Regions from separate parts of the Homo sapiens genome. Here regions 2 and 3 are each reported to be linked to region 1. The links are microRNA targets in miRTarBase. Many come from high-throughput screens and were not tested one by one. Region 1 holds a microRNA gene; each other region holds the end of a gene's coding sequence. Distances are between the middles of the regions.

The links. The annotated mature microRNA hsa-miR-5186 reads AGAGAUUGGUAGAAAUCAGGU and lies in region 1 at 2,420-2,440, shown strand. An mRNA with a match to its seed (bases 2 to 7 or 8) in the 3' UTR can be bound and repressed. Matches are read on the target gene's strand: a 7mer-m8 pairs with bases 2 to 8, a 7mer-A1 pairs with bases 2 to 7 and ends in A, and an 8mer does both.
Region 2: the mRNA of AP3S2 is a reported target of hsa-miR-5186. Seed matches in the 3' UTR shown: 7mer-m8 at 1,344-1,350.
Region 3: the mRNA of ARGFX is a reported target of hsa-miR-5186. Seed matches in the 3' UTR shown: 7mer-m8 at 3,944-3,950.

What each region holds. Positions count from the first base shown.
Region 1 is chr3:151,561,224-151,568,343 of GRCh38, reverse strand. It overlaps MIR5186 (microRNA 5186), which reads left to right and starts at 2,349; the gene lies at 2,349-2,468. The region is part of intron 1 of LINC02066 (long intergenic non-protein coding RNA 2066); the gene reads right to left. It also overlaps a transcript of IGSF10 not described here.
Region 2 is chr15:89,829,079-89,836,198 of GRCh38, reverse strand. AP3S2 (adaptor related protein complex 3 subunit sigma 2) reads left to right here. Exons shown (of 6, transcript NM_005829.5): 6 at 556-5,600. The coding sequence ends at 684. ARPIN-AP3S2 (ARPIN-AP3S2 readthrough) reads left to right here. Exons shown (of 10, transcript NM_001199058.2): 10 at 556-5,600. The coding sequence ends at 684. It overlaps LOC124903552 (a long non-coding RNA gene), which reads right to left and starts at 290. Exons shown (of 2, transcript XR_007064754.1): 1 at 1-290.
Region 3 is chr3:121,585,497-121,592,616 of GRCh38, forward strand. It overlaps ARGFX (arginine-fifty homeobox), which reads left to right. Exons shown (of 5, transcript NM_001012659.2): 5 at 526-5,126. The coding sequence ends at 1,104. LOC124906360 (small nucleolar RNA U13) reads left to right here and starts at 5,798; the gene lies at 5,798-5,898.

The DNA.
Region 1 (7,120 bases):
GTTTGCACAGTGTCTGGAGGAGGCACGTGTCCATGTGTTTTCAAGCTTTGTCCAGTAAAACAGTGTGCCTGTGACAATTAGTACTGACTTTTTACCAAACATATGCTTAGAAATAAGGATAATTTATTATAATAATCATAAATACAGGATTAAAGAGGAAAAAGTACTTTTTTTGTTCTATTGTATATGTTCTGTGGCAGTAGACTAGACAGCTAATAATTTAGACATCTGAGAGGACCACCTACCAGAACAGAGGGTCTTTACTCTTCTGACAAATAAACTAGTAGGTACCCAAAGATTGAGGCCCAGAAGAAAACAGAGAGAGAGGCTTTGTTTTAAAATGTACTGGGGTTTGTTTTGATCACTTATAGTAAGACGTGAGCCTGACAATGACTGTCATGAAGGAAGAAGGTGTTTGCACTCACAGTTCCCTAGAAATAGGAGGCACAGCAATGCAGGGAAGTCGCTTGTGGAAGCCAGGCAGGGGGCACAGGGGAAAAGCAGGGGTCAGCGCCTTTACTGCAGTTTTGTGGAAAGGAATGGGCAAGGCAGGAAAATAGGCTAAGCAGGTTTAGAATTGTCTTGTTGAATCATTTCAGCAGGCTCTGGGGTGTAGGAGCTGTTTGGAATTGTCTAGCACCTCGCCCTGGGCTGATTAGGGCAAGAAACTATTGGCCTGGAGTGGAAGGGTCCCACAGAGGTAGGGGGCTAGTTACAGTAGGCTTTGAATTGCTTAGTTTGCATATAAAAGAGACCCTCCCAGGTAACACTGTTTGATATCTGCAGGAATTAACTAATGCTGGGAGAGGCCATCCCTCCAGATCTGTGAGGCCCAAGATGCCAGAGCATCAGGAATACAGAAAATAAGAAAATAAAGTTCAAGTAGGTTTACAGTGAAAGTTTTTCTTGTTAGTTCCCAACTATACACCCTAGCACGAGTCCCAGAATTTCTACAGTCCTGGTTTACAGATGATACTCTCAGCAGAGGCAGAGTGACTAGGCTTCTCAATTTATTCATATGGATAATAAAGTGGCTCAAATAAAATGAATATTTATTATAAGGCCATAAAGCCATTTCACAAAAAATGAAGCAGAGGTGAATCTCCCAGGAATAGGAGCTGAGATCCAGGGAACCACTGAAGATAGAAGTTTCTCTCTCTTTGTCTCAACTGCATATAATCTTCCTCATCTATGATCATTGGCTACTGTCCACAGACAGGATCAAAATGCCCAGGGCCCAAGTCTACAGACCCATTTACTTCATAGGCCCACATCCATTTGACTAGAGACTCTGTGTCTCAGAAAATACATTTGCCTACAGGCTAGCCAACAGATTGACAGCCACCTGGATAGGTGTTGGTCCCTGGTCCAATCAGGGAAAAGGCTATGACATTAGACGAACTTGAACAGAGAGACTCATCTCTTCAGCAAGGGTGAGCATGGAGCTGACAGTGCTGTAGATAGGCCAGGCAGGCACCCTGAAACTACACCACCTCTGTTAGCTAAGAAATATAATTCTTCTTGACATTGAAGAAATTGCTAAAAATTGTGACAGGACTTGTGGCTGTTAACCTATTCAGAGGGAAAGATGGTAGTACCGAATGCTGCTCACTAAATATTCCCAGCTCTCTGCCCTCCGGCACATAGCACTCTATGGCTCCCAGTGGTTGGTGGAGGCCATGTAACTATTCTGGCCAATGAACTGAAAGCACAAACAATGTATGCCACTTTCCTGTTGAATGTTTATCTCTTGGCATGATTTCCTCTGAGCTCTCTTTGTCCCTGCCATGGTAGCATCCTCCTGATAGCGACTATTCTATCAGCCTGGGACCCAAAGCAGGGACAACACATGGGTTGTCAGAAGAACAAGAAGTCAACTTCCTTGTTAGCCACTGAGATTTGGAGTTTGTTATAGCATAACACAACCAATGCCAACTGGTTTAATAAATCCAAAAAGTTGTACTTATTAAGTAGAACCCAACAAATGCTATTAACTTTAATCATCCCTCAGTTCTGGGGAGAGCAGAGGAGACCTTATGCACTATCTTTTCTACTATTCATCTCAAATCTTTCCTAATCTATCATTTGTGGGGTAGGGTTTCACTTCCCTGCTTCCTAATTCATAAACTATCATGTTTATCATTATTTGGTCAGATTTCTGATTTTCTAGCTGATACCTCCCATTCTAATCCAAATTTGCTTTCTCCCCTCTGCCAGGGAGTTCTCATGACATGTAGCTAGGGCCTCACTTTGTGGCAATTTTATAAGCCTCTCATTAAACATTGGCACTGCCTCAGTTGCTTTCTGCACTGATTCTCCCAGGACTGGACCCCTGCCTACTCCCCAACTCAGCCAGCTTATGACTTGACCCTCTCACCTGATTTCTACCAACCTTTCCTCAGCTGATTTCTTTCTGGGGAGAGATTGGTAGAAATCAGGTGAGAGGGTCATGCCATAAGCTGGCTAACACTTTCATGCATTAATTAATACAGGAATCATAGCTATCATCTTAATCTATCACTCTCGTATCTATCTGATACTATGCATTAACGTTCTCAAAAGGCAAATTCCAACTAGAACAGTGTTTCTCAAATACCAATCAGTGGGCCAGAAGCAACAGAATTAGCTCAGTAACTCACTAGAACTCCAGGGTAGGTGCTTTAGTAGGTCTAAAAATATAAAGCAGAACATTTCTATGTTTGTTTGTTTTTATAACTTCCCCCAGGTGAGTCTGATGCACAAAAAAGTTTTGAACCCCTGGAACAGATCATTCTGTAGCTGCTTGAACTTCATAATTTGAACTATTTACCTCAACCTGGAGGCAGGCCTGGCTTTCTTGATCCCTTGTTTCAATTTTGACAATGTTCACCTTCTGCTCTGGCCAGGAGCTCCCAGGATGCCAGTAAACCAGACCTTACCACTCACCTCTGTATATAATGGCATCTCAAATTCCTTATTCACTTTTTGTACTTCTGGGTTACAAACATACTGGTGATTTTATATTATGATTTTTACAAATGGGTGAAATATGGTTTCTGGGCCTATAAAGTCAAGCACTAGATTCTAGATTCAAGGTCTCTCTACCAATTTGCCAAACCCCAGTGAAGTACTGCTTAAAGTTCTCAACTGGTCTTACCTCCTAACAATTGATAATTCACACAGCAATTGTCAAACCATCATATGAATTAACCAGTAAATCCCATTCTCTGCCAGTACTAGAGAGTTCTTTCAGAGTTTTTAGAGAGAAAGTATAGCATAATATAAGCCACAGATTCCAGAACCAGATTGCCTGACTGAAGTCCTAACTGCGCTGTTTATTAGCTGGTGATCTTGCACAAGTTACTTAGCTTGCCTCTGTCTCAGTTTTCTACTTCCTAGGCTTGTTACAAGAGTTAAAGGGACTGATACCTATAAGAAATCTTGTGCTTAGTATGTATTCAATGAACATTTAACCATTACCATGATTCTTACTTTTTAGTTATAGGCTATTTATTTACAACCACTTGTATATGAAACTTTCAACTGCACGCTTACCTTTGGGTACCTCTTGTAATTGATTCACCGGTAACTCACATGTCATTATGCTCTCTCATGCTAAAGCTCAGTCAGTAAGTAAATTGTTTCTTGGCCTCTAAGGACATGCATACCTCATTCAACTGCCGTAACCCAAATGCATGCAGATATCAAGCAAAGCAAACTGGTAAAAACTATGGCCAACTGGGGAACACAAACTTCATCTAAAAGGTCAGCCACTTCTCAGTCCAGCCTAATATTTCCATGCCTGAATGCAAACCCAATGCTTCCTTCTGTCTTTTCAAAAAGAAGCCAGAAATTTAGACTTTCATGGTCAATTTCCCAATTTGTAAATGTTGTCAAAGAAAAAAAGAAAGAAAGGAGGAAACAAAGAGAGGAAGGAAGGAAGGAAGGAAGGAAATAAATTCTTAAACGTCATGCTGGCCAAAACATATATGTAAGCCAATTTGATCCAAAGCTGCCAATTGGCTCCCTGTGCAATTAAAAAAAAAGTCAAATATAAAATTGAATGTGTGTACTGATGCAAAAAAGGAGTATGAAACCCGATAATATCAGCTTGGTCAAATTAAATATGCATGTAATGCCCTAAAAATATGTATTTAATACATTGTTTATTAGAACTAACATAAAGAAATTAGAAAAAATATAGCTATTTATGTTTTACTCCTAAAGCCAATGCAAGGTTTGTGGTAAAACCTGATGATGATCATCTTCTATGAAACAGAATATTCTTTTCACACTCATAACAGGAAGCGAGCAAAGATGTGTTTAGGAACATAAATGCTGGATCCAGACTGCCTGAATTTAGATCTTAGTTCTGCCTCTTGCTGGGTGAATACCCTCTGATGTCTTCATTTGGATTGCTTCCCCAACCTGTCTGTGCCTCAGTTTCCTCACCTGTGAAATGGATATAAGAACAGCACTTACCTCATAGGTAGTTCTCTGACAATTCAATGACTTAATTATTATAAAGCATTTAAAACAGTGCCTAGCATATAGTAAGCCCTATATAAATATTTGTTAAATAAATTATGGCTTTTGTTCAACCAAAATTTTACTTCCTAAATACTTATAAAATATCATAAGGCAGGCTAATATTTTTTTTAAACGCTGCAAATTCAACTACAGGAAACCAAATTCTCTCCAGTGCTTTAAACTAGAGCTAAATGTCCAAGTGAATATTACTGTTGTTGGTGACAACTCTCCAGCACTTGGATATAATTCTAACAGAAGGAAAAAATGCAAGTTGTTGTCAGGGACAATTGAGTATCTGATGGCTTGATGGCTTCTGAGGTCTCTTTTATATATCCATAAACGTGTTATTTGTCTTACTTGGCAGTGAAGCTCATGGAAAACTGAACTCTCTCCCTAGAGTCCTTAGCTTTTTATTAGATTCAGGATTTCCTGAAGCCCATTCACATACCTCAAATTAAGAAGGCCCAAGTTAGGACATTTTATTATTTTGTTATTCTAGTTAGTTGATGCCTAAAGTGTAGGCAGGATGCCCTGGGACATGAGGTGCAGAGGTACGGGCCTTAGCAAGCAGTACCAGGTAGGAGAAATGGGAAGAAAGTCACTCTCACGGTCAAGGCTGTTTATTCCCTCTCCTAGAGGGCCGCAGGGTGAGAAGATATATGGCAGACACACCTGAGAGCATTAACTCAAGCATACCCTATGAATGACCTACCGTCTAAGAAAAATGTGTGTTAGGAGTTCTGAGCTAAGGAATCCGGGAGTGGCCAACCCAGAGATTCACTCCTTCTCTATGAAGAACATATGAATCCCTGGCCCATCCCTTAGAATGCAGGTCATGCAGAGGATTGAGGCCCTATGTTTTGGGTTAAATGGAGTTTGCTAGGTGGAGGTTGCTAGGTGGAGGGGGTTAAATGAACATTTTTATATAAACTCCATGATCTTTACAAGTGGTAGCACTTTTCCTGTCCATCCGACCACTCCCTGACTGCCCTGTATGTACGTCCTTGATAAAGTCTATATCTTATTCACTTGGGTCTCTTCTTTGGGCTCTTGGACATGGTGCATTGGTGCCTTCCCTACTGGAGTCAATAGGGGTCTGGCACCACAGTAGAGCACTTCTGTAGAATTAAGAAGCTTGAGGCTCTAGTCTGGACATTGGTACTAACAAGTTGTGTAATCCTGGCCAAGTACCTTCCACTCTTGGAGGAAGTACCTTTAGAAGGTACTTCCTTAAAATGAGGTGGTTTGACCAGGTGATCTTTAAGATGCTTTGAACAGTATGTGTCATCTTTATACTAGAGTAAAACTGTTACCGGAAAGGGGTCCCAATCCAGAACCCAAGAGAGGGTTCTTGGATCTTGTGCAAGAAAGAATTTGAGGTGAATCCATAGGGTTAAGTGAAAGCAAGTTTATTAGGAAAGTGAAGGAATAAAGAATGGCTACTCCATAGGCAGAGCAGCTCCGAGGGCTGCTGGTTTCCCATTTTTATGGTTATTTCTTGATGACATGCTAAACAAGGGGTGGATTATTAATATTCCCCTTTTTTAGACCATATATGGTAACTTCCTGACATTGCTGTGGCATTTGTAAACTGTCAGGCACTGGCGGGACTGCAGCAGTGAGGAAGACCAGAGGTCACTCTCATTCCCACCTTGGCTTTGGTGGGTTTGGGCTGGCTTTTTTACTGCAAACCTGTTTTATCAGCAAGGTCTTTATGACTTGTATCTTGTGCTAACTTCCTATCTCTGTGACTAAGAATGCCTTATCCTCCTGGGAATGCAGCCCAGTAGGGCTCAGCCTTATTGTACTCAGCCCCTTTTCAAGATGGAGTTGCTCTGGTTCAAACGCCTCTGATAAAAGAAAAAGATAAGTCTTGAAAGTATGTGTTTGGACCAGAAGAACGTCAAGGCTATACACATGGGTTACATTTTCAATGATTTATTTGTGTAATTTAAATAAGAAATATTGCAGCATGCTTCACTATTTAAACAGCACAAAAGATTGTATAATAAGGAAAAAATTATTTCTCCTCCTCTGCCTTCCACATACTTTGGTTCTGCTTCCCCAGGTTACCAGAGATATGTATACCTCTCCCCACTCCCCTTCCTATTTTTAAACTACAAATGGTAACAGATGTATATATTATTTTGCTTCTTGTTTCTTTCTTTATCAGGATATCTTAGAGGACGTTCCATGTCAGTACATATGCATCTTGTTTACTCTTTTTAAAGCCACATTTTATTTCATTACATAGATATACATATTACATAGAGATGAATAAAACTGTTTCCCTATTAAATAATATTTATATTTACAAAAGAGTCACCAGCATTTTGCATCGATGAGCAATTCTAAATAAATCCCTTTATACACCTCTTTGTACAGATGAACCTGATGAAAGGGAAGAGTATTTGGTTTTCTAGGGATTCTTAGATTCTTCATAATAGAGATTAAAAAGAGGAAATAGTATGTTTCTGCCTAAGGAAGTAGACTAAGTTCTCATTTAGAGAACTATTTAACCCATGTGCCTCAGACAATTAGATTTTTCTCCCTTTACTTTAGCAAGAAACAACATTTAGTTTTTTGTTTTAAAGAAAAAATTATCAAAAAC
Region 2 (7,120 bases), not on the chromosome of region 1:
TAGTAGGACTGCAGGCTTTGGATCCCTGTGCCAAACCCCATCTAACCTCAAGATTGTTTTGTTGGCTACTTTTGAGGAATAAGGGGGGAAAGTTAAAACTTCAGTTGTGTGTGCTCAGTTTGGAATTTTTCTAGGCATCCTTCACCTGTTATTTTGTTTGTTTGTTTGTTTGAGACAGAGTCTCACTCTGTTGCCCAGGTTGGAGTGCAGTGGCGTGATCTCAGCTCACCGCAACCTCCGCCTTCTGAGTTCAAGCGATTTTCCTGCCTCAGCCTCCCTAGTAGCTGGGACTACAGGGGCCCGCCACCACTCCTGGCCAATTTTTGTATTTTTGGTAGAGATGGGGTTTCACCATGTTGGCCAGGCCTATCTCGAACTCCTGACCTCAGGTGATCCACCCACCTCGGCCTCCCAAAGTGCTGGGATTACAGGCGTGAGCCACCACACCCATCCTGCTTGTTTGTTTTTGTTTTTGCTTTTTTTTTTTTTTTTTTTTTAGCATTAAGCAGATAACAGTGAGAATTTGTCTCATACTCGCCTCTCATTTCTTCTTAGGGTGGCCTTTCAGCAGCCCCTGCGCGGGCTGTGTCTGCTGTGAAAAACATCAACCTGCCAGAGATTCCTCGGAACATCAACATTGGCGATCTCAACATCAAAGTTCCCAACCTGTCCCAGTTTGTCTGAGGATCAAGTATTGGCCTGAAATAGAGTCCTTAAGACAAGCAAAGACAAGCAAGGCAAGCACGTCTGGAAACAGAACCCATTTTGAGCCTTAGAAGAGTCAAGCCTCAGGACCTGGAAACTTTGTGTCTGGGGAAGACTGTTTGGCATGGAATAGGGAAGGGATTCCTATTGACACTGCTCGGGTGCACCCAGTTCTCACATGTGCAGTCATGCCGTTCTCTGATGCATACGGCCACTGCAGATGTGAGGGGCCCTGCCTTCCTCAGTAGGGAGTCAACATGCCCAAGTCATTTGCACCTTTACCTCTCACATGGATGCTCCCAAGGGTTAGGGACTGCATTGAGCAGGCCCACCTGCTTCCCAGAACCTCCTCACTAGGGCTGAGCACCTTCTCTGAGTAGAGTCTTCATCCTTAGCACCACAGACTTCTGAGGTCCTGTGCCCTTTACTTGCTGGTGAGGTGTCATAGGTAGAAAAGGGCTGGCCCTTCAGATCTGGGGGTGTGGTGAGTGGCAAGTAAGGGCAGAATTTTAGGAGAACCAGAGTCACCCGCTGGCTCTACTGAGATTGTTACACCCAGAATCCTTTTGTGTTTTTTTGTGGTTTTTTTTTTTTGAGGTGGAGTCTTGCTCTGTCACCCAGGCTGGAGTGCTGTGGTGCAATCTCGGCTCACTGCAACCTCTGCTTCCCGGGTTCAAGCATTTCTCCTGTCTCAGCCTCCCCAGTAGCTGGGATTACAGGCACCCACCACCATGCCCAGCTAATTGTTGTATGTTTAGTAGAGACAGGGTTTCACCATGTTGGCCAGGCTGGGCTCGAACTCCTGGACCTCAAGTGATCTACCCGCCTTGGCCTCCCAAAGTGCTGGCATTACAGGTGTGAGCCACCGTGCCCGGCCACCAGAATCCTTTGGTATAGCCAAGCCTTTTGGTTACCGCCTCATGAAGAATATGCTTCCCGCATTGTCCTAGTCCCAGTTGTATTCTCACAGGTGTTATGTGCAGGACACAATCCAAATCATAAACCTGGCTCATGCCCAACACATTTCTGCTAATAGGGAGAGGGACCCACCACACACCCACACATGCCAGAGGTCCCTCCTCACAGAGGAGAGGGCCTGTGTCTGTAGAAGGTTAAAGCTGACAACATGTGAAACATCCCAGAATTATGACTCTTCCCAAGTTTAAAATACATTCTCCTCATGAGAGCAGAAGGTTTGTTGCTGTGTTGTGAATGATGAGCTGCCTCCATAGGGAACCCACTGCCACCTGGGCCAGCTTCTGGAGCATGAGAACCTGAGCCAGGGTCACCCTTGTGGGGCCTGGACATGACGCACGCTGGCTGCGACTAGGAGCAGGGCTGCCTCTTCTCCCTCCCCAAGGTCTGCTTGTGGGCACGCTCTGTTCCCTCAGGTGCCATTCTCCCAGGGCTTAGGCGCCCATAAATGTTCTTTCTGTGGTGGAGTAGGGCCTCCTGCTTCCATACTGTCGCATGGGCTAGATCTCAGGTGTGGTGTTGAGCCACCTTAAGATGAGGGCTGCTTCGCAGTAAAGTTTCCAGCCTGGGCCCCTCTTGGGCCTTCTGGCTGGGGACCCTCAGCCTCCTGATGCTGTTGCAGGGCAGGTCTGAGAGGGTGCCCAGCAGCACCCGGTGTCAGGGCCACCTTGTTTTCCATTTTTGAACAGCGCTCCCTGTGGTTTGTGCCCACTGCTCAATACAGCCTCCGATCCTCACTCTTGAAAGCTCCATGATAAGCACAGAGATGGGCAGTGTGGGTCAGAAGGTGGGCCGCTTCCTGTGGAAGAGGGAAGTGTAGGTGAATAGATATCAAAACCCCTGATGTCATTCTTTTGAGGGGTTGGATTTTCTTTTTTCTGGCAGACATTTCAGTACATTCACATTTCTCTCACATTTGCTGAATGTGAGATCAGAATAAAGGAGATCGGCGTTTATTTCGTACCTTCTGTAAGTTGGCATGAGCAAGATCATTCAACTGTCCTTACAACAGGCATTCTTATCCCCATTTTGCAGATGACGAAAGTAGACCCAGCTCCAGTAACCTTCCCTTAGATTACACGGGGCTGAGATCTGAGACTGTTCACTTGACTCCACTGTCCTTTTCTTTCCTCGCTGCTTAAGATGGCTTCTCCCAATGTTATCATCTTCTTTTTTATAGATAAGGAAACTGAGCCTCAGAGAGTCTGACTTCTCACAAACCGTGGTCTAAATAGGCTTGATTTTCTAAGGTGGCCAGTGATCATGTCATAGAGTATAAGAGCCAAAGAGTCGTCTGTGTCCCTCCATTTAACTGATGTTGAAGCCGAAGCCCAAGGTGGTAAATGTTATGTTGAGGGTCACAAATCCAGAGCCACATCCCTCTTCTTGAGTTCGTTTGTTACGTGGTTTAATGCATTACTGCAGGACAGCCCTTATGCTAGATTTCCTGGGATAGCCTAGATTTTGAATGTTTTGCCTGCCAGAAACCAATGGTTTTAAAAAATCATTGAGTGGTCCTACAGATTCAAAGCGAGCATCCAAACATCCCTCACATGGCCTCTTACAATGACATAAAACTGAAGCCCACTTTTTTATTTGGAAAACTCAATCCCTTTGGACAAGCCACAATAATTTTTCATTAACTACTTGAGGTTGCCTGCAAATTCAGCTAGCTTTCCAGCCTGCTATCAGCAAAGCCATAAACATCTTTTTTAAAAATAGGTTAAGGTTGGCCAGGTGCGGTGGCTCACGCCTGTAATCCCAGCACTTTGGGAGGCCGAGGCGGGCAGATCACGAGGTCAGGAGATCGAGACCATCCTAGCTAACACAGTGAAAACCCATCTCTACTAAAAATACAAAAAATTGGCCAGCCGTGGTAGTGGACACCTGTAGTCCCAGCTACTCAGGAGGCTGCGGCAGGAGAATGGCATGAACCCGGGAGGCAGAGCTTGCAGTGAGCCAAGATCGCACCACTACACTCCAGCCTGGGCAACACAGCAAGACTCCGTCTCAAAAAAAAAAAAAAAAAAAATAGGTTAAGGTTGTATAGAATACTAGGCTTTCCTTTTTTTGTGAGATGGGGGTCTCACACTGTGGCTCAGGCTGGAGTGCAGTGGTGTGATCATGGCTCACTGCAGCCTCGAAGCCCCGGGGTCAAGTGATCCTCTCACCTCAGCCTCCTAGGTAGCTGGAACCACAGGCACGCAACCACCACTCCTGGCTAGTTTTATTTTTTTAGTAGAATAAGGTCTCACTATGTTGCACAGGCTGGTCTCTAACTCCTTACCTCAAGCCATCCTCCCGCCTTGGCCTCCCAAACATGTTGGGATTACAGGTGTGAGCCACTGGACCTGGCCAAATACTGGGTTTTCAGTGCTCACTGCCACTAATAAAAATCTGAAATTCTTTCATTATGCAATTTCTAAGTGCCTGGTGAGGGCCAAGCTCAGTTCTAGGCTCTGAAGATTAAGAGAGAAACAAGGCTCTGTCTGCTCCTGTTGTCTCTGTGAGCATCTTTGACAGAGTGCTCAGATTGTTGGGATATAGTGCATCGGACTGGCAGCCTGAATTTGTGGAGACCGCAGTCAGTAACTTTGTGATATATGGAATATTTAGAGGACAGTAACCCATTTCCCTACGCCCTACCTGATCACATCGTGCCCTGCTGGGCCATACCCCAAACAGCCCACCTTCCTCTAGGCCTGGCCATGGCCCTGTGCCTGCCACATTGAGGATTAAGTCAGGATATCTTGAGCCCTCTCAAATCCCTGTTTATTCAGGCCTCTGCCACATATAGAGCCAGCCTTCTGTCCCCACCACTTCCACTACCATGGAGCCCACTTAGTAAAACGCTCTCTGGGCCCAGCTTCGCCAGAAAAGACACCAGGGGAGCAAGGCTCAAACCAGGGGCAGCTAAATCTGATCTTGTGGACCAGTCTCTAGTAAGGGCTTTCAGCGTGGCTGTCTGTCCATTGCTTTCCAAATAGGATGCAGCAATGATTGGTACATGGGTATTAAGATCGGTAGTAGGGGCTAGTCCAAGTTTAGCAATAGCCAAACTGGAGAGCCTCTGAAGTATGAGAGTCCCAGAGGGATTTGTCAGCTCCTGGCAGACATCCTGATTTTCACCTTCCTGAGTCTACCCTACCCCAGAGGGTGCCAGTCTCACTGTGGTGATGGTTAGCCCAGTGTGTGCTGCACTCACACACCAGCACGGGGTCCGTGCTTGCAGGCTGGTGGATGCTGTCCTCTGGGTTAAGACTGTCTCCCTTCTCGGGAGCACTGGAGGGTTCTCCATCTGCGTGTTTCAGTGGAAGTTGGCAGATACGAAAACAGGCCCCTATAGGGAAGCAGTTCCATGAAAATGATTAATTCTTTCCAAAAGACTTAAAATTTTTTCCTATTTCAATTTTCCTTTCAAAAAAGGAAATACATTCATGTAGTTCAAAACTTAAGAAAACAAAAGTCTGTTCAGCAAAAGACTCCCACTCCGGTTCCCCAAACGCTGAGCCCCACCCCCCATCCCTGGTAGCAAGAAGTGTTTCCAATTTTAAGGTTAAGAAACAAAGTCCCTGGATTTGTGTTAGGGATGTCTTCCTGAGAGTGGGTTGTGTTCCGTTTGACCCTGGCGGTTGACCTCGGCCCACTAGGATCATGCCGCCCTCTCCAGGGAGGAGGGCCTCCCCATCACCCTGTACAGTGGCACCCCAGCCCTGGCACTGCCCGCCCTTGCTCAGCGTACCTTTCCCATGGCACTCTGACGTACTGGATGTTTGGTTTCTGAAGTTACTGGCTGTTTACCCTGCCGGGATGTAAGCCCCTCCAGGGCAGGGGCTTGTCTCGTGTTCAGTGCTGCATCCCAGCTGCTGGGCACGGTACCTGGTCCATGGCGTTCAATAAATAACTGTTGGATGAGTGAACGGTTGAGGCAAATGGCAGTTCATTCTAACAGTCTCAGCATGTGCTCTCCAGGTCCCTGTGCTCAGCACTTGGGAAGGAGAACCAGAATAGTGGTATTGGAAGCAGGAAGTGGGAAGGACCCGATGATGGCTCGTGGAGGCTGAGGGAGAGGAGAATGGCAGAGCTGGTGTTGGCAGGTGGAGCCCGTGTAACGAGGAGGCGCAAGGATGGGGCTCTCGAGAGAGGGAGGGGGTTTGGGAGGGTGGCAATCAGGAGTTTGGATGTGGAACGCATTCGGTTGGGGTTGTCCAAGCATCTCTGGGGGCAGATGTCCACCAGCCAGCTGGGAAACTGAGTGGGCAGGAGAGGAAATGAGTCTCCACCCAGAGATGATGATTGGAGGTGTGGGGGTGAGCGCTGTGGCCGAGGGACAAGAGGGTTGAGGACTGAGCCTGTGGGCAGGGGAGAGAGGAGCATCTGGACAGCGGGCGACTTCAAGTCAAGGAAGCACTTTCAGTGGGGAGGGGGACCAGGAAGAGACGGCCTCTCTCAGGCTTCCATTGGCCCCAGCCCAGCCCCCCGAGTGAGAACTGTGAAGAGATGGCTCTAGCCTCATGGTGGGGCAGGTCCAAACTTAGTGTGGGTCACAGTCCAGCTCTGCAATGTGCAGTCTGAACCTTCGGAAGATTCAGTTTGCTCATCTGAAAAAGAGGGTAATGATTCCTGCCTTGTAGGTTACTGTGTGGATTCAGTGAATCACTGATGCGGACGATGAAGGACTCACTCAGTCAACATTGGCTACTCTTATCACTGAGACTTGCAGAGGGAATGGGAGTTGAGGAGGTGGATGGAATAAGTTCGATGATGCTGGGAAGGAGAAAGAGCTCAGGTCCTGGCAGAAGGGGAAGAGGAAATGAGGGCAGCAGAAACCAAAGTGGGCCTTAAAGGAGGGCACTGCACGGGGATGGTGATGCACACTGGCCCTGGCCTGGCCTGTCAGTGGGGTCCCACACCCGTATCCAGAGGCACAGCTAGATAAAATGGTTGAGGAGGTGGTGGGGTCTGCAGAAAGTGAATCTTAAGATGGGGAGCGTCTGAAGACATAGAAGAGCAACTAGCAACTGGCAGGACCCACGGTATGGGGGTCAGAGGGGAGAGGAGCCTGGAACTTCCTTTCCCTGGAGTCAGGAGGGACATCTGGCAGTCCCAGCAAGCACGGCGGGAGCTCGAATCTGGGGACCAGTGAGAGGGCCTCTGACCTCGCAGGCCTGGATGAGAGTTGGGGCCCCTGCAGGGACTCCACGCTTCCCATGAGAAGTGGGATCTTTGAGCCTTCTCAAGAGCAAACCTTACATTTTAGTACAGCTCTGACAGCCTGGCCTCCCGGGAGCACTTGGAAACAGGGGTGTCCCCTCCCCCAGCCTCCAAGGACCAGGCTGCAATTTCAGGAGAGACAAGCTGGAGGTTGCCTTCTGCATTGCTGAGAATGAACGCCCTTTGCACACTGTGAAAGAAAGGCTAAGCTAAAATTGATAGACAG
Region 3 (7,120 bases), 30 Mb from region 1:
ACGTTTTTCTTTTTTCTCTTTTTTTCAGAGATGGGGTCTCACTATGTTGCCCAGGCTGGTCTCAAACTCCTGAGCTCAAGTGATCCTCTCACCTCAGACTCTCAAAGTGCTGGGATTACAGGTGTGAGCCACCGTGACTGGCCATACATTTTTACTGGAGTATTCCTTATAGGAGAGGCCTCCTAAAATAATCCTTAAAAATCCTTCAGTTCAAATTCTTCACCTCTCCCTAGATCCTAGATCCCTAAACTAGCCTCTCTTCTCTAGAGTTCAGGACCCTATCTCTGAACACCCAGCACAAACCCTGAAACACACCCGCTTCCTTCCTTTCTGGGGTCCCAGACCTGATCTTCATCATCCCTCCTACTGACTCCAGTCATGCCCATCTCTGCTTTTGCAGAGCCCAGTGTCATGGTGAATTAGAGAGGACATGAAGATTATAACCTGGCTGTTTTCACTCAGGAGAATCCTCCAATGCCTCCTCCAATAACAGACCACAATCTCCCCCTCTTCCCCTACTCCCAGGTTTGGTTCAGGAACCGGCGATTCAAATTGAAGAAGCAGCAGCAGCAGCAATCAGCAAAGCAACGAAACCAGATCCTTCCATCCAAGAAGAATGTGCCCACCTCCCCCAGAACATCCCCCAGTCCTTATGCTTTTTCTCCTGTGATTTCAGATTTCTACAGCTCCCTTCCATCTCAGCCCTTAGACCCTTCCAATTGGGCATGGAACTCTACCTTCACTGAGAGTTCTACCAGTGACTTCCAAATGCAAGATACTCAGTGGGAGAGGCTGGTGGCCTCGGTTCCTGCTTTGTACTCTGATGCCTATGACATATTCCAAATCATAGAACTGTACAATCTTCCTGATGAGAATGAGATATCCAGCTCTTCTTTCCACTGTCTGTATCAGTATCTCTCACCCACAAAGTACCAGGTAGGAGGACAGGGTTCCTCTCTCAGCATCTTTGCTGGTCCAGCTGTAGGCCTATCTCCTGCACAAACCTGGCCCAATATGACAAGCCAAGCCTTTGAAGCCTACAGTCTAACAGATAGCCTGGAATTCCAGAAAACCTCCAATATGGTAGACTTGGGATTTCTCTGACCAGAGTACTAATAAATATAGATCATTTAGAAAAGTGGTCTTCTTGCCTCTTGTACATGACTGTTTTTTTCCTTTGTCTCATTTTAACCCAACATCTGGGTCTGTGTCTCTGATTTCCATGTAAATGTTGCAAAAAGAGTTTTCCAAGTAGAGCTGGGCACTACGTAATCAGCCCCACAAGTCTCCCTGAGAAGCCTGCCTAGTCCCTTTCATGGCCAATGAGACTCCAAAATTCCCTTCCCAAAACTATCTTGGATTTTCTAAAAGTAGGACAGTGGTTTTGGGGGTTATCCACTTTTATTTTTTTGAAACTAGCTCTCATTCTGTCACCCAGGCTGGAATACAGTGGTACAGTCACGGCTCACAAAAGCCTTGACCTCCTGGGCTCAGGTGATCCTCCCACCTCAGCCTCCTGAGTAGCTAGGACTACAGATGCTCGCCACCACACCTGGCTAATTTTTTTTTTTTGAGACTGAGTCTCGCACTGTCACCCAGGGTGGAGTGCAGTGGCGGGATCTCAGCTCAGTGCAACCTCCACCTCCTGGGGTTCAAGTGATTCTCCTGTGTCAGCCTCCTGAGTAGCTGGGATTACAGGCGTGTGCCACCATGCCTGGCTAACTTTTGTATTTTTAGTAGAGACGGGGTTTCACCACGTTGCCCAGGCTGGTCTTGAACTCCTGACCTCCAGTGATCCGCCTGCCTTGACCTCCCAAAGTGCTGGGATTACAGACATGAGCCACCGAGCCTGGCCAATTTTTGTGTTTTTTGTAGAGACGAGGTTTTGCCATGTTGCCCAGGCTGGTCTCCAACTCCTGGACTTAACGCCATCCACCTGCCACAGCCTCCCAAAGTGCTAGGAATACAGGAGTGCACCATCGCACCCGGCTGGGTTATCTAGTTTAAAAACACTTTTTTTCAAGGAAACCGAAGAAACCATCATCCACTTTTCTCTCTGTATCATTCTGATTTTAGTATATGTGTTGTGGAAGTGAGTACACTATCATCCACTTTTAATGACAGAAAGTTATAAACTTACATTTTGTTTCCAATTTTTCATTTTTTGTTTGTTATTTGTTTTTTGTAGACAGCACTCTGTCACCCAGGCTGGAGTGCAGTGGCACCATCTTGGCTCACTGCAGCCTCTGCCTCCTGGGCTCAAACAGTCCTCCCACCTCAGCCTTCTGAGTAGCTGAGACTACAGACATGCGCCACCATGTCTGGCTAATTTTTGTATTTTTAGTGGAGATGGGGTTTCGCCTTGTTGCCCAGGCTGAATTTGGGTTTTTTTAAAATGAGACTTTCAGTCCTAATTTGAGGGGAAATTACTGTCACCACTAGTTTTAATATAGTACAATGAAAAAATAATATATATATATATAGTACAATGGTCCAGACATAATAAGAGGTGTAAAAACTATCACAGGAAGAAATAAAAACAGATTTTTGAAGGTGAGATGATAAACTTGCAAAACTCACAAAATAAAGAGTCAAACTTTTAGAATGACAAGTTAGCATATTTTCCAGCCACATGATCAACCTACAAAATTAATACCATTTCTGAACACCAGTAATAAAGAAACATAAGGGCTGGGGGTGGTGGCTCATGCCTGTAATCCCAGCACTTTGGGAGGCCGAGGCGGGCGGATCACGAGGTCAGGAGATTGAGACCAGCCTGACTAACATGGTGAAATCCCGTCTCTACTAAAAATACAAAAAAAAAAAAAAAAAAAAGCCAGGCATGGTGGCACACACCTGTAATCCCAGCTACTCGGGAGGCTGAGGAAGGAGAATTGCTTGAACCTGGGAGGTGGAGGTTGCAGTGAGCTGAGGTCGCACCACTGCACTCCAGCCTGGACAACAGAGCAAGACTCTGTCTCAAAAAAAAAATAAAAAATAAAAAATAAAAAATAAAAGAAACATAAGATAAGTACCTCTCAATGAAAAATGTAAAAGTACCTAGAAATTCACAAAAAAATTAATACCTCTGTGGAGAAAACTTCAAAACTTAAAAAAGGACATAGAAAATGTTTTGAATAGGCCAGGCGCAGTGGCTCACACCTGTAATCCCAGCACGTTGGGAGGCCAAGGCGGGCAGATCACGAGGTCAAGAGATCAAGACCATCCTGGCCAACATGGTGAAATCCTGCCTCTACTAAAAATACAAAAAAAAAAAAAAATTAGCTGGGCATGGTGGCACACACCTGTAGTCCCAGCTACTTGGGAGGCTGAGGCAGGAGAATCACAAGGATTGAAACTATGCAGTGTGTTCTCCAAACATGATGGAACGAAATTAGAAATCAATAAAATTTGGGAAATTCACAAATATGTGGATATTAAACAACACATTCCTAAATAACCAGTGGTTAAAGAGGTAATCACAGTCTGAGCAACATGGCAAAACCCTGTGTCTACAAAAAATAAAAAATTAGCTGGGCATGACGGCCAGAGCCCATGGTCCCAGCTACTCGAGAGGCTGAGGTAAGAGCATCCCTTGAGCCACAGAGGTCGAGGCTGCAGTGAGCTGTGACTGTGCCACTGCACTCCAGCTTGAGCAACACAGTGATACTGTCTCAATAAATAAATAAATAGAAGAAATCATGAGTAAAATTGGAAAACACTTTTAACTGAAAAAAACAAAAGCACAACAAACCAAAACATGGGATGAAGCTAAATCAATGCTTAGAAGGAAATTTATAGCTTCAAATACTTATATACATATTTTTTAAAAGTAGCTTTACATAGGAAGGAAGTGGCATAGTTTTATCAATATCTGTCAAATTAAACTTCAAGGCAAAACTTTTTTATTGAGATGGAGTCTTGCTCTGTCACCCAGGCCGTGCAATCTCGGCTCACTGCAACCTCCGCCTCCTGGGTCAAATGATTCTCCTGCTTTAGCCTCCCAAGTAGCTGGGACTACAGGTGTACGCCACCACACCCAGCTAATTTTTGTATTTTTAGTAGGGACAGGTTTTGCCATGTTGCCCAGGCTGGCCTCAAACTCCTGAGCTCAAGTGATCCTCCCGTCTCAGCCTCCCAAAGGGCTGAGATTACAGGTGTGAGCTACCTCACCTGGCCAAAACAGTTTTTTTAGAAATGAAGTATATTAGACAACAACAAAAGGAACAACTAACCTGAAATATATAATAACTTTGAACTTAAATATACTTAACAACATATACCAAAAATATATGAGGCAAATTTTAGCAAAAATTAAAATTCTTAAGAAAACTTCACTAATATATAGTCATAATGTGGTATATTCATAGAACATTCTCAATAATTGATAATAACAGTCCAAAGAAAGCAGAAAGAAGGAAAGCCTAGAACAGAAATAAATGAAATAGAGAATAGAAAAGCAATACAGAAAAAAAATTATGAAATCAAAAGCTGGTTCTTTGAAAAGATCTACAAAATGGCAAACATTTAGCTAGATTGACCACCCCCTCAAAAGACTCAAATTACTAGAATCAGAAACAAAAGTCAAGATTTTATTACCAAACTTATAGAAATAAAAATTATTAGAAAGAAATACTATGAACAATTGAATGCCAACAAATTAGATAAATGAAATGGACAAATTCCTAGGAAGACACAGAATACCAAATCTGACTCCACAAGAAATAGATGTTGTGAATAGAGCTTGCTATGGTATGAATGTGTCCCCCACAGCTCATGCGTTGGAAACTTAATCCCCAAAGCAACAGCTTTGAGAGGTGAGACCTTTAAGGGTTACTAGGCAGAGCCCCCATGAATGGATTAATGCCATTATTGTGGGAGTGGGTTAGTTATCTCAGAAGTGGGTTCCTGATAAAAGGATGAGTTCGGCCTTCTTCTTCCCCAAAATCTTTATCCCCACCCCCACCTCTATCTTTCTCTCTCTCTCTTACCTCCTCCTCTCCCTTCCTTCTGCCATGGGAGGATGAAACATGAAGGCCCTGGCCAGGTGTGGCCCCTCCATCTTCCGTCTGAGACTGGAAGACTTCCCAGCCTTCAGAACTGTAAGAAATAAATCTCTCTTCATAAATTACCCAGTCTCAGGTATTCTGTTATAACAACACAAAAACAGACTGAGACAGAGTTATAACAAGCACAGAGATTGAGTTAACAATTGAAAACTTCCCACAAAGAAAAGCCCAGTCCCAGATGGCTTCACTGCTAAATTCTACCAAAATGTTTAAAGAAGAATTAACACCAATCCTTCATAAACTTTTCCAAAAAAAACAAAAGAGGAGGGAACTCATTTTATGAGATCGATATTATCTGGATACCAAAGCTGAACAAAGACGCCATAAGGGAACTACAGATTATAGTGAGTATCCCCTATTGGAAATGCTTGGAACCAGAAGCGTTTCAGATTTGGAGTTTTTGGAATATTTGCACATACATAATGAGATATCTTGGGGATGGGACACCAGCCTAAACACAACTCATTTATGTTTCATATACACCTTATATACATAGCCTGAAGGTAATTGCACAATATTTTAAGTAACTCTGTGGATGAAACAAAGTTTCGAGTGCGTTTTGACTATGACCCACCATATGAGGCCAAGTGTGGAACTTTCCTCTTGTGGTGTCACATCAGCACTCAAATAATTTTGGATTTTAAAGCATTTTGGAATTCAGATTTCAGATTGGGGATACTCAACCTGTAATACCTCTTCTGAATATAGACGCAAAAATCCTCAATAAGATCCTTTTGTAGTTCATGAATGTGATGATTGGGCATTCACGTGGATGTGTGAGTGCTACCCTCGAAGCTTGTTTCAACATTGGCACATTATGCATCTGACTTGAAAAAACAAATTCTCAATAAAATACTAACAAACTAAATTTAGCAACATATAAAAAGGATAGATACCATGACCAAGTAGGGTTTATTCAGGAATGGAAGATTGATTCAACATAAAAAAATTCATCAATGTAATACACGATATTAATAGAATAAAGGACAAAAACCACATGATCATCTTGCTGGGCACAGAAAAAGCATTTGATGAAGATCCACACTCTTTCTTGATTCACTCAACAAACTAGAACAAACTATCAAACTCCTCTCCTTCAACTTGATAAAGGCCATCTACAAAAATCCACAGGTAACATTGTACTTATTGGTGGAAGACTGAATGCTTCCCCCCTAAGATCAGGAACAAGTGAAGTGTGGCCACTCTCACCACTCTTGTTAAACATAGTGCTGGAAGTTCTAGGCAGGGAAAAACAGCAAGAAAAGGAAGTTAAAGGCATCCAAATCGCAAAGAAAGAAGTTAAAATATTTTTGTTAACAGATGGCATGGTCTTGAAAATCCTAAGGAATCCACAAGAAAACTATTAGAACTAATAAACCAGTTCAGCAAAGTTTCAAGATACAAGATCAGTGTAGAAATTTTTTACAATTTTCAACTGCTATTTGCTCATTCCAAATAAGTTTACCTCCAAGGACATATATGTATGAAGAATCCAGGGGAAAGGTTAATTCGATGGCTGTTAATCACAGCCAAATTTAGCACATCTGCTGTTAGTCAAAATACATTCAAATACATTCAAATAACAGCTGGCATTGTGGAGCACTTGGCATGTGGTACATATCATTCATGTGCCTTATGTGTACTGACACAGTTACCTGTGGTCGCACCAAGTATCATCGCCATTTCACAATGGGGAAAACTGAAATAGAAAATGGTTAAGTAAATTTGTCAAAATCACATACCTAATCCCAGCACTTTGGGAGGCTGAGGTGGGAGGATCATGAGGTCAGGATTTCGAGACCAGCGTGACAAACATGGTGAAACCCCGTCTCTGCTAAAAATACAAAAATTAGCCAGGTATGGTGGTACGTGCCTGTAATCCCAGATACTCAGGAGGCTGAGGCAGGAGAATCACTTGAAGCCAGGAGGTGGAGGTTGCAGTGAGCCGAGATCACGCCACTGCACTCTATCCTGGGCAACAGAGCGAGACTCTGTCTCAAAAAAAAAAAAAAGAAAAAGAAAACACCAAAGCCGGGATTCTATATTTTTTT